Linked DNA regions of Homo sapiens. The protein of the gene in region 1 purifies or fractionates together with the protein of each later gene. This does not show direct contact. Each region holds a gene or a part of one and is shown in the gene's direction. Other genes may lie near its edges.

The links.
Region 2: the proteins of CORO1A (region 1) and IFT80 purify together in Homo sapiens (affinity purification with mass spectrometry; 3 studies listed by BioGRID and IntAct, with this or other methods). This does not show direct contact.
Region 3: the proteins of CORO1A (region 1) and VARS1 purify together in Homo sapiens (affinity purification with mass spectrometry; 4 studies listed by BioGRID and IntAct, with this or other methods). This does not show direct contact.
Region 4: the proteins of CORO1A (region 1) and TJAP1 purify together in Homo sapiens (affinity purification with mass spectrometry; 3 studies listed by BioGRID and IntAct, with this or other methods). This does not show direct contact.

What each region holds. Positions count from the first base shown.
Region 1 is NC_000016.10:30,186,602-30,189,576, forward strand, and holds the end of CORO1A (coronin-1A), read left to right. Parts: coding exon 1-119; intron 120-214; coding exon 215-344; intron 345-437; coding exon 438-622; intron 623-780; coding exon 781-900; intron 901-1,123; coding exon 1,124-1,228; intron 1,229-1,340; coding exon 1,341-1,486; intron 1,487-1,590; coding exon 1,591-1,648; intron 1,649-1,759; coding exon 1,760-1,975; intron 1,976-2,258; coding exon 2,259-2,363; 3' UTR 2,364-2,475; downstream 2,476-2,975. UniProt on the Homo sapiens protein: May be a crucial component of the cytoskeleton of highly motile cells, functioning both in the invagination of large pieces of plasma membrane, as well as in forming protrusions of the plasma membrane involved in cell locomotion.
Region 2 is NC_000003.12:160,378,726-160,382,225, reverse strand, and holds part of IFT80 (intraflagellar transport protein 80 homolog), read left to right. Parts: intron 1-501; coding exon 502-723; intron 724-3,500.
Region 3 is NC_000006.12:31,785,753-31,789,252, reverse strand, and holds part of VARS1 (valine--tRNA ligase), read left to right. Parts: intron 1-3,500. UniProt on the Homo sapiens protein: Catalyzes the attachment of valine to tRNA(Val).
Region 4 is NC_000006.12:43,501,570-43,504,311, forward strand, and holds part of TJAP1 (tight junction-associated protein 1), read left to right. Parts: coding exon 1-118; intron 119-713; coding exon 714-780; intron 781-1,018; coding exon 1,019-1,048; intron 1,049-1,831; coding exon 1,832-1,939; intron 1,940-2,053; coding exon 2,054-2,137; intron 2,138-2,742. UniProt on the Homo sapiens protein: Plays a role in regulating the structure of the Golgi apparatus.

The sequences.
Region 1 (2,975 bases):
GACGTGTGGACAAGAATGCGCCCACGGTCTGTGGCCACACAGCCCCTGTGCTAGACATCGCCTGGTGCCCGCACAATGACAACGTCATTGCCAGTGGCTCCGAGGACTGCACAGTCATGGTGAGTGGTGGTGGGGACCCAGGGGCTGGGAGAGGGGCTCTAGGATGGGATCTGACATTTGGAGTCCTGAAGACTCACTGGCCCCTCCTCTGCAGGTGTGGGAGATCCCAGATGGGGGCCTGATGCTGCCCCTGCGGGAGCCCGTCGTCACCCTGGAGGGCCACACCAAGCGTGTGGGCATTGTGGCCTGGCACACCACAGCCCAGAACGTGCTGCTCAGTGCAGGTGCTGCGGGAGGAGGGGCTTGGGGGTGGCTCGTGGCCTGCAGTGGATGAGGGCAGGAGGCTCATGGCTTCTGACACTGTGGGGAACGTGCAGGTTGTGACAACGTGATCATGGTGTGGGACGTGGGCACTGGGGCGGCCATGCTGACACTGGGCCCAGAGGTGCACCCAGACACGATCTACAGTGTGGACTGGAGCCGAGATGGAGGCCTCATTTGTACCTCCTGCCGTGACAAGCGCGTGCGCATCATCGAGCCCCGCAAAGGCACTGTCGTAGCTGTGAGTCGCCATCTACCCTGACCTTTGACCCTACAGCCTTTATCCTTCTTATCCACCATCAGCCAGGCCCTTGGATGCTGCCCTCCCTCGCCTCCACCTGGGACTGGCCCCGTAGGGTATGTACGGGTGCCTGACCTACCACCTCCCTTTCCTTGCAGGAGAAGGACCGTCCCCACGAGGGGACCCGGCCCGTGCGTGCAGTGTTCGTGTCGGAGGGGAAGATCCTGACCACGGGCTTCAGCCGCATGAGTGAGCGGCAGGTGGCGCTGTGGGACACAGTGAGTGCTGGGGCAGGAAGCCGAGGGCCCCCAGGCTGGGAACCAAGACTGGAGGTTTCGTCCCTGCTCTGCCACTCACCTGGCAGGATGGCCATGGGCCTCAGTTTACCCAGGCGTGAGATGGTTGTTCCCACTGGTTGGTCGGGAGGGCCCTCACAGGTCACTGCCCAGGGAAGACCACCATCCCAGGGCCTGGGATGTTACCTCTCACCTGTGTCTACAGAAGCACCTGGAGGAGCCGCTGTCCCTGCAGGAGCTGGACACCAGCAGCGGTGTCCTGCTGCCCTTCTTTGACCCTGACACCAACATCGTCTACCTCTGTGGCAAGGTGGCCTCGTCGGGCGGGGTGGGGGTGGGAGGTGGGCAGGATGGGCCTGGAGAGGGCCAGGGCAGTGGGCATCCGCTGGTATTGACCCTCCCTCCACACCTGCCACCTACAGGGTGACAGCTCAATCCGGTACTTTGAGATCACTTCCGAGGCCCCTTTCCTGCACTATCTCTCCATGTTCAGTTCCAAGGAGTCCCAGCGGGGCATGGGCTACATGCCCAAACGTGGCCTGGAGGTGAACAAGTGTGAGATCGCCAGGTGACTGACCCCCGGCCCTGACCGCAGCATGCTCCTTGGGCAGTGGGCAGTCCCAAGCCCACCCAACCAGACTGTGGGCCCCGCTCACCTTCCCCTTCCCACAGGTTCTACAAGCTGCACGAGCGGAGGTGTGAGCCCATTGCCATGACAGTGCCTCGAAAGGTGATGCTCCCCCGCCCCACCCTGGGCTCCAGGCTGGGCACTGACTTTGCGGTCTTGTGGGGGGTGTCCTGGCATAAGCGCTTTCCTCACTATCCCTGGCCTTGCCCACAGTCGGACCTGTTCCAGGAGGACCTGTACCCACCCACCGCAGGGCCCGACCCTGCCCTCACGGCTGAGGAGTGGCTGGGGGGTCGGGATGCTGGGCCCCTCCTCATCTCCCTCAAGGATGGCTACGTACCCCCAAAGAGCCGGGAGCTGAGGGTCAACCGGGGCCTGGACACCGGGCGCAGGAGGGCAGCACCAGAGGCCAGTGGCACTCCCAGCTCGGTGAGAGGGCTGGGAAGCCAGGGAATAAAACTGGGAGGGTGGGGTGGGGCTGGTGTTTGGGGCACCTCAAACTCACAACATTGGGAATCTTTGTGGGTCCGGGAATGGTAATCCTGAGGCCTCAGAACACAGGTTTCAGATTGATAGGCCTGCAGGTCTCCAGGCAGCAACCAGCTGAGCGACTAAAGGGCCCAAGGCCAGGGCTCTAGGGATGGGGCTCAGCAGAGGCTGGGGTAAGGGGAGCCAGGGAGGAGCTGGGCCTAATGCAGCACCGGGTCCCCAGGATGCCGTGTCTCGGCTGGAGGAGGAGATGCGGAAGCTCCAGGCCACGGTGCAGGAGCTCCAGAAGCGCTTGGACAGGCTGGAGGAGACAGTCCAGGCCAAGTAGAGCCCCGCAGGGCCTCCAGCAGGGTCAGCCATTCACACCCATCCACTCACCTCCCATTCCCAGCCACATGGCAGAGAAAAAAATCATAATAAAATGGCTTTATTTTCTGGTACCTCCCAGACTCTGATGACTGGTCCCCTAGACACGCAGTTTGCTGAACCAACCAGCCCTAGAGCTTCCCCTCCACCGCGCTGAGGGGACTGACCCATGGCAGGGGATGTGGGATGCCCCCTGACTTACTACATCACAGGAACAGGGCCTTCGTGGGTAGAAACCAGCCATGCTGATGTGGGCCAGGAGGCTGCTCTCCGTTTCCGAGCTCCTTCTCAGAGCTGACACAGCTGAACTATTTAAGGCCCTAGCTTAGAACCTCAATAATTCCCAAATTTACCAAAAATCTGCCTTTCCTAGTCAACCAAAACATCACGTTGCACGTGACTCTGCTGGCACTGTTGCTTGTGAGGAAATGAACCAACCATCACTTACAGGGTAGGCATCTTTTAAACTGCAGGTCCAAAGATAAAAATAACGAGGGAGGCTGGGCATGGGGACTCACGTCTATAATCCCAGCACTGTGGGAGGCTGAGGCGGCAGGATCATTTGAGCCCAGGA
Region 2 (3,500 bases), on another chromosome or scaffold:
GCCTACTGTTAGATTTCAGTCTTGTTTTGACACTTGATTATTTTTTCCTTAGCAAAAGAATACATGCTTATTTTAATAACTTACATGATACAGACATATATAAAGAAAAAAGTATAGTTCCCTTTGCTCCCTACCTATCCCCCAACAGTTCAGTGTAGATTCTTTGATACCTTTTGATCTACTAAGTCTCTTTTGTATACCTTTTGGCTTTGTGTATAGAATATTGTATAACACAAGTTTTAAATTTTCATGTGGTCAGATCTTTTCTCCCCCACCTTTTGGCATCTGGATTTCTTTCTTGCTTTCCATTTTTACAATTCTTTTAATAGATGCTTATTTTCTTTTATATAGAAAAAAATACCAGTCATAAAATGGAAAATACATTTAGAATCTTGAAACCATTTGACCCTATTTTACTTATACCTTATAATCTGCATCTGTGAATTATTCATTAAGATTAAAGACTTTTGTATGTTTTATGTCTCTTTAACATGGTGACACATCAAGAATTAGTAAGCTGTGTGGGCTGGACTACTGCTGAAGAGCTGTATTCATGTAGTGATGATCACCAGATAGTGAAGTGGAACTTGTTAACCAGTGAAACAACTCAAATAGTAAAGCTTCCTGATGATATTTACCCTATTGATTTTCACTGGTTTCCAAAAAGTTTGGGTGTAAAGAAACAAACCCAGGCAGAAAGCTTTGTCCTCACAAGTTCTGATGGTAAGTTTTAAATAAACATTATATGCTCGCCATTGTATTTAAAAGACTTAATAGTATGATTTATGCTTTGAGTTGTTTTACAAAACTGGTATTTGTGGATCTGCATATTTTTATCCACATATTGTATTTCTTTTCTGAATAGTCACTTGGTTTGTGTATGGGCTATGAAATTATTGTCATGGAAGAAAGTTAGTTTAACTGGCATATACTAGGATTGAATATGGGTCTTTGGCTTTAATATATATATATATATATATATATATTTAGAGATGGGGTCTCACTCTGTTGCCCAGGCCAGAGTGCAGTGGTGTGATCATAGCTCACTGTAGCTTCAAACTCCTGGGCTCACACAATCTTCCTGCCTCAGCCTCTTGAGTAGCTGGGACTACAGGCACACACTATTACATCTGGTTAATTAAAACATTTTTTTTGTAGAGACAGGGTCTCATCTTGTTGCCCAGGCTAGTCTTGTACTCCTGGCCTCAAGCAATCTTCCTTCCTTGGCCTCCCAAAGTGCTGGGATTACAGGTATGAGCCACCATGCCCAGCTGGCTTTACTTTTTTAGTACTCTTATGAGTTGAGTTAAGCTGTTATCATAGTTTTAGTTCCTAAATTCTTCAAATTTAACTTAATATAACCACACTGAAAAGATATACCTATTCATTTAGTAAGGTATCTGTTAAAATACATACTTTATTTTCCAGTACATGTTAATTTTCAGTTACAGAGTTGAAGAGTTTTATAATTTGACCGCAGCTTTCTTATTGGTGAATAACAAGTATGATTTTTTTTTTCACTTTTTAAGGGTATGTTTTTATATTTGTTTTCTTAGAAATACGTGAACTGTTTTCATCTGTGTTATACTTTACCTGCTGTTTCAATTAGGAGTACATTGATTGAAAGTAACAGAAACTTATTTGGCTAACTTAAGCACAAATGGAGTTTTTTGGTTCACCTAGCTGTAGGGGTAGATCAAGCACTAGTTGCATCGGGTCCCTGTTCTCACCATCTCTTGGGTAGACTCTCTGCACATGGTGAACATGATGGTGAGTATGACGGTGGCCAGTAGCCCAAGGCTCATCATACTTTGTAAGACTGCTTCTTCCTCAGTATCTCGTGCAGGCAGCTTGCAGAGGGACCCTTAATGAGCTTGGGTCATATGCCCATCACTGAGTCAATCAGTTTAGTCAAGAGAAATGGACTTTGGGAGGCTGAGGTGGGCGCATCATTTGAGGTCAGGAGTTCGAGACCAGCCTGAGCAACATGATGAAACCCCCGTCTGTACTGAAATACAAAAAAATTTTAGCTAGGCATGGTGGCACATGCCTATAGTCCCAGCTACTTGGGAGGCTGAGATAGGAGAATTGCTTGAACCTGGAATGCAGAGGTTTCAGTGAGCTGAGATTGCGCCATTGCACTCTATCCTGGGCACAGAGCAAGACTCCGTCTCAAAAAAAAAAAAAAAGAAAAAAAGACAATGGGACACTGATTGAGCGTATCCAGCCTCAGGCCATCCACATGCAAAGGAAAAGAGAAAGAGAAGAGGGCTTTTGTAACCTGAAGATGGAAAGGATGTTAGGACAAACAGTAGTATCAGATTACACCTTATTTACCGAGAGACTTGTGGTAGTTTTTTAAAACTTTGTTTTTCAGAAACTTGATTAAATGAGATACATGTGTAAAATCACTTGGTAGAGTGCCTGGCACTTAGAAGATTGGCCCTGAACCACAGCTAGAATTTAGTTTACCTCAGGTGATAAAGGGAGTGTTTGACTTAAACAATTATTTTGATATAATTTTGCATTTACAGAAAAGTTTTAAGAATTGTACAAACAATTCCTGCATGTCCTTTATCCAGATTCACTAGTTTAACATTTTGTCCCATATATGTTGGGACAAAGTATTGGCTCTGTTTCTTTTTACACAAACCCTCCTCGCCCCCAGCACACACCCTTTTTCTGAAAGATGTGAGAGCAGTTTGCAGACATGTACTTTTAACCATGAATACTTCAATGCATTTCCTAAGAATAAGAATTTTCTGTTACATTGCCACAATTTGTTGATAAAAATCAGGACATTTAACACTGATGCAATGCTATTATCTAATCTATAGTTTATATTTAAATTTTAACAATCATTCTAATTTTCCATAGAAGTTTATTTTTGCTGGTATAGGATAACATATTGTTTTTGTTGTGTCTCTTTAGCTTCCTTTAATCTGGAACAACTCTTCAGTCTTTTGTGATCTTGACAGTGTTGAAGAATATATGCCTGTTATTTTATAGTTCTTCAATTTGTTTTTGTCTGATGTTTCCTCATGATTAGATTCAATTTATATGTCCTTAGCAGGAATACTCGGGGCATCAGACTAGGAGATTTATGATGTTGGTTTGACCCATTATTGGTGATGTTAACCTTAATTATAAGTTAATAAGTTCATGTTCATTAAGTTAATCTCTGTAAAGTTACTATTTATTCCTTTTAATAATTTATGAAAAGATACTTTGAGACTATGTAAAAATATTATCTTCTTCATCAAACTGCCTCCCACTCTCTTAGCATCTATTGATGACTCTTGGCTGAGTCATTTATTACTAAGATAGTTTGCCAAATGGTGATTTTTCCAACTCCGTAATTTCTTCCATATTGATTAGTTGGTATTCTACTCCAAGGAAGAGCTTCCTGTCCCATGCCCATATATTTATTTGTTTTTTTGGGGTCAGATTAGACTTGTAGATTCTCATTTTATTTCATAAATATATTATTATTATCATTT
Region 3 (3,500 bases), on another chromosome or scaffold:
TGAGAATTCTTTACCTGTTCTGGGTATCAATTTTTTTGTTAAATATTGTAAATGTTTTTGTTGTATTATTGTGTGGTAGTTTTCCTGTTAATTGTAAATGTTTCTCCTGTTTTCTGTTACTATTTGTTTTCACTGTTAATATTTTAATTAGTGATAAATACAAAGTAATATTCTAGGTGACAAATCTTTTTAAAAAGTATTTTAAAATAACTTTACCATTTTTGGAAACCAGGGTTTATTATATTTAAATTTTGAGAATTTTTTCTGGTGTCTTATGTACTAAATTAATGTGGTCAAAAAATATTTACTGGGCCCAACTATGTGCCACCTCTGCTCTGAGCACTGGGAATATAATGTTTGATTGTGCATTTTGCAAGTAACTGAGAGCTAGGAAAACAGTTATATGTTTTATTTTTTTATTTTTATTATTATTATTATTATTTTGAGACAGAGTCTCTCTCTGTCGCCCAGGCTGGAGTGCGGTGGCGCAATCTTGGCTCACTGCAAGCTCTGCTTCCCAGGTTCACAGCATACTCCTGCCTCAGCCTCCTGAGTAGCTGGGACTACAGGCGCCCGCCACCACGCCTGGCTAATTTTTTGTATTTTTTTTAGTAGAGACAGGGTTTCACCCTGTCGGCCAGGATGGTCTCGATCTCTTGACCTCATGATCTGCTCACCTCGGCCTCCCAAAGTGCTGGGATTACAGGCGTGACCCACCGCGCCTGGCCTGTTTTTTTTTTTGTTTTTTTTGTTTTTTTGAGACAGAGTCTCTCTCGGTTTCCCAGGCTGGAGTGCAGTGATGCGCGCTTACTGCAACCTCTGCCTCCTGAGCTCAAGCGATTCTCCTGCCTCAGCCTTCTGAGTAGCTGGGATTACAGGCGCATGCCACCACACCTGGCTAATTTTTGTATTTTTAGTAGAGACGGGGTTTCACCATGTTGGTCAGGCTTGTTTCGAGCTCCTGACCTTGTGATCCTCCCGCTTCGGTCTCCCAAAGTGCTAGGATGACAGGCATGAGCCACTTCGTCCAGCCAACAGTTCTGTTAAATACACATAACATACAATGGCCAAGTTGTTTGCGTTTGTGTTTGCGTTTTTGTTTTTTCAATTTTTCAATTTTTTTTTTTTCTTTGGAAATGGGGTCTTGCTCTGTCACCCAGGCTGGAGTGCAGTGGCGCAGTCTCTGCTCACTGCAAGCTCCTCCTCCCAGGTTCACACCATTCTCCTGCCTCAGCCTCCTGAGTAGCTGGGACTATAGGAGCCCACCACCACGCCTGGCTAATTTTTTTTGTATTTTTAGTAGAGACGGGGTTTCACCGTGTTAGCCAAGATGGTCTCGATCTCCTGACCTCGTGATTCGCGTACCTCGGCGTCCCAAAGTGCTGGGATTATAGGCGTGAGCCACCACGCCCGGCCCTGTTTTTCAATTTTTTAATAAAATCAAGAGAGGGTCTCGCTATGTTGCCCAGGCTGGTCTTGAACTTCTGGGCTCAAGCAATCCTCCTGCCTCAGTCTCCCAAAGTGCTGGGACTACAGGCATGAACCACCATACCTGGCCTCCAAGTTTGTTTACATGAAAACAGAATGACTACTTTTTTTTTTTTAATTGAGACAGAGTCTCGCTCTGTCGCCCAGGCTGGAGTGCAGTGACGCGATCTCGTCTCACTGCAACCTCAACCACTTGGGTTCAAGCGATTCTTGTGTCTCAGTCTCCTGAGTAGCTGGGACTACAGGCACGCACCACCACGCCCAGCTAATTCTTTTGCATTTTTAGTAGACAGAGTTTTGCCATGTTGGCCAAGCTGGTCTTGAACTCCTAACCTGAAGTAAGCCGCCTGCCTCGGCCTCCCAAAGTGCTGGGATTACAGGTGTGAGCCACTGTGCCTGGCCACATACTTCTTATAAAACTCTTAAGGTAGCCACATTTTTTTTCCAGTGAACGTGGTTTAAATAAAATGTGAGACACTCCCATTACTTTAATGGAATAGAGTTATATCAACTTTTTATTTTTATTTATTTGTTTATTTATTTATTTTTGAGACAGAGTCTCTCTCACTGTGTTGGCCAGATTGGAGTGCATCGGCATGATCACAGCACAATCATAGCTTGGTGCAGCCTCAACCTCAGCCACCCAAGTAGCTGGGAACAAAGGTGCACGCCACCATGCCTGGCTTTTTTTTTTTTTTTTTTGCAGAGACTAGGTCTCACTATGTTGCCCAGGCTAGTCTGCAACTCCTGGGCTCAAGCAGTCCTCTCACCTTGGCCTCCCAAAGTGTTGGGGTTATAGGCTTGAGCCACTGTGCCTGGCTTGAATTCTTTAATCTATCTAAAGTTTCTTTTTGTGACTATTGGTAAGGGGGAGATTTTTTCCAAATAATTAGCTAGTTGTTTCAAACATTTTGAATAGTTTATCCTTATTTTACTGATAGGAAGTGCCAACTTTCACAAACACTAAATTTGCTTGTATCTGTTTCCAGGTACTATTTTGTTCCTGTTTAGTAACTTATTTTAACAATTAGAACTTTTGCTATCCTGTTTGGCAGGAGCCTCCTCTTCGTTCTTTTTTTTTTTTTTTTTTTTTTTTTTTGAGACAGAGTCTCACTCTGTCATCCGGGCTGGAGTGCAGTGGCACAATTTCAACTCACTGCAACCTCCCCCTCCCAGCTTCAAGCGATTCTCGTGCTTCAGCCTCCCAAGTAGCTGGGATTACAGGTATGCACCACCATCCTGGCTAATTTTTATATTTTTGGTAGAGACAGGGTCTTGCCATGTTGGTCAGGCTGGTCTCGAACTCCTGTCCTCAAGTGATCCACTCGCCTTGGCCTCCCAAAGTCCTGGGGTTACAGGTGTGAGCCACCACGCATGCCTGTCTTTGTTCTTTTTCCATATTGCCTTGGCTCTTCCTTCAAATCTTTTCTCCTTGACTAGCTTTAGAATCACAAGGGTTCCAGCTCCACCCCTGCTTCTTTCTTTTTTTTTTTGTTTGTTTTTTGGAGACGGAGTCTCACTCTGTCACCCAGGCTGGAGTGCAATGGCATGATCCCAGCTTGCTGCAACCTCTGCTTCCCGGGTTCAAGCAATTCTCCTGCCTCAGCCTTCCAAGTAGCTGGGATTACAGGCACATGCCACCACGCCCAGCTAATTTTGTATTTTTAATACAGACAGGGTTTTACCATATTGGCCAGGCTTATCTTGAAGTCCCCACCTCAGGTGATCCACCCACCTCGGCTTCCCAAAGTGCTGGGATTACAGGCGCATGCCACCATGCCCAGCTAATTTTGTATTTTTAGTAGAGACGGGGTTTTACCATGTTGGCCAGGCTCATCTCGAACTCCCCCACCTGAGGTGATCCACCCACCTCAGCCTCCCAAAGTTCTGGGATTACAGGCGTGAGCCACCGCGTCCGGCCTCCCTGCTTCTTTATTTAGTCCACTGACTCCTTGCCTGAAGCCTCTGCTTTCTTTGGTGCCAGGCCCCACTGGCCTGGCTCACCCTCTGGT
Region 4 (2,742 bases), on another chromosome or scaffold:
CCGCCACCAGACGCACTGAGGCCCTGGAACGTGAGCTGGAAATTGGGCAGGACTGCCTGGAGCTGGAGCTGGGCCAGAGCCGCGAGGAGCTGGACAAATTTAAGGATAAGTTCCGCAGGTGTGGGAATGAGGGGCCAGACACACACACACACACACACACACACACACACACACACACACACACACACACTCTCTCTGTCTCTCTCTCTCTCTGTGTCTCTGTCTCTCTCCTTTCATAGGAGGTTAGCTGGAAGATGCCTTAGAGATCATCTAATTCCTATTAAAAAACTGGATAAGTTCTGCAGGTGTGGGAATGCGGGGCCACACACACACACACACACACACACACACACACACACTCTCTCTCTCTCTCTCTCTCTCTCTCTCCTTTCATAGGAGGTTAGCTGGAAGATGCCTTAGAGATCATCTAATTCTTATTAGAAAACTGGATAAGTTCTGCAGGTGTGGGAATGCGGGGACACACACACACACACACACACACACACACTCTCTCTCTCTCTCTCTCTCTCTCTCTCTCTCTCCTTTCATAGGAGGTTAGCTGGAAGATGCCTTAGAGATCATCTAATTCCTATTAGAAAACTGAAGTTCTTGAGGGAGAATGACATGTTCAAGATCCCCTATCGGGGAGGCTGAACAGAGCCTGAAGAACAGGATCTTGACCCAGGGATGTGCCTTGTATTATCCCTTTTCAGGCTGCAGAACAGCTACACGGCTTCCCAGCGGACCAACCAGGAGTTGGAGGACAAGCTGCACACACTGGTAATCTGTCTGGGAGGGCAGCTTGGTGGGCACTGTGCTCATAGCATAGCAGGGGGCCAGGATTTGCCAGGGGAATGCCACTCTGCCCTGGGGCTTGAGGGAGATGGTGGGATGGGGCAGTGGTGGGGGTACTGCAGTGTGCTCTGCAAGTCAAGACTGTCTTAATGCTCACACTGTTTCTCTTCTTTCCTCGTCTCCCCCTCATGCTGCCACCGTTGCTGCTGCACTCTCCTCTCAGGCCTCTCTTAGCCACAGCTGGATTTTTGCAGTTGCGTCTGAGTTTGTGTGTCTTCTCCCTTGCCCTGGCCTTCTCCTCAGCTGAGATCTGGGATTGTGGGCCCTGGCTGTTACCCTGTGCCCCTTGAGTACACCCGCTCCTTTCTCTTCCCTGTATGAGGCCCGTTTAACTGTCAATGCCTCCCTCCCAGGAGAGAGGTGGGGAGCCTAGCCTGCTCTGCCCTTGGCTCTGGTAGAGGTACTGATTGATGTCTCCACTGAACACCCAAAGCTTCTTGGCTCCAGTGGCAGCAAGCCCAGGCTGTGGGAGTGGGGAGGGGAGGCTGCAGATCCAGTCCCTGAACTGGAGATCAGAAGGCTACTTTTGAGCCTGCAGCTTGCTCCCTGCTCAACAAGGTGCCCTGGCTGCCACCGCGCCCTGCTTCCTCTTCCCTCTCCTAGCCTGATGCTGGAAACAGCTGCACACATAGGAGGCTTCAGCCCCCTGGTTTGCAGTTACTGCCGTTGAGGTACCAGCTGCCTTGCCTGGTGCCCAGAGCCCCTGGAACCTCAGGGGATGGACAGCTCTTATACTGCCTGTGTCCTGGGCCCAGGTGGCAGGAAGTCATGCTAAGAAAGCCCCCACCCCACAGCCAGTCCAGAGAGCGGGAGAGATGCCCAGTCTCCTTCTGTCTGTCCGTCATTTGTCTCTGCTCTGTCCGCCTTGGCTGCCCTAGCACCTGTGGCCTCTTGTGTCTCCAGGATGGGAGGAGGTGGAGGGAGAGGAAGGGCTGGCTAGAGTGTGGGCTGGGTTAACCTCAAGTCTGTGCTTCAGATCAAGAAGGCTGAGATGGATAGGAAGACGCTGGACTGGGAGATTGTGGAGCTGACCAACAAGCTGCTGGATGCCAAGAACACCATCAACAAGCTGGAAGAGCTCAATGTATGTGCGCTTCACTACTCGGGCCTTCCTCACCTGGGGCTAGCTTTGTCCTGGCTCGGCCCTGCTTCCTTGGAGAGGGCTGGGCTGGGCTCTGAAACAGGTCTGTGTCTGTAGGAGCGGTACCGGCTGGACTGCAACCTGGCTGTACAGCTCCTCAAGTGCAACAAGTCCCACTTCCGAAACCACAAGTTTGCCGATGTGAGTAGAACTCACCCCCTCCCTGCCCACATAGACCATTCCGGCCACTGTAGGACTCCTCTAACTCCAGTTTCTGCACCTCTCTCTGTCCTCCTCTTCCCACTTTGCCCTCCTCTTGCCTCCATGTCACCTCTCAAGCCAGTCAACTCTGCCACTGGTTGGTGTCCCGTGTACTGTCCAGGGCCCATCACTAGTTCTGGGGGGCCAGCCCTGTTGGTTTCTGTAACAGAGACAGAGAGAGAAGATCCTGGGCAGGAAGGAGAGGGTAGTCAGAGCTATCTGCCCAAAGAGTACTAAGAGAGGATTAGGCCCATCTGATCATGTTACCCCAAGGGGTAAACTCTAGACCCCACAGCTTCAGGCCCAAGGTTTATGTGGCCTGCAGAAGTAGAAGAAGTAGAGGTATTTCTTTTTTTTTTTTTTTTTGAGACGGAGTCTTGCTCTGTCACCTAGGCTGGAGTGCAGTGGCACAATCTCGGCTCACTGCAACCTCCGCCTCCCGGCTTCAAGCAATTCTCCTGCTTCAGCCTCCCAAGTAGCTGGAATTATAGGCGCCCACCACCACGCCTGGCTAATTTTTTTGTCTTTTTAGTAGAGATGGGGTT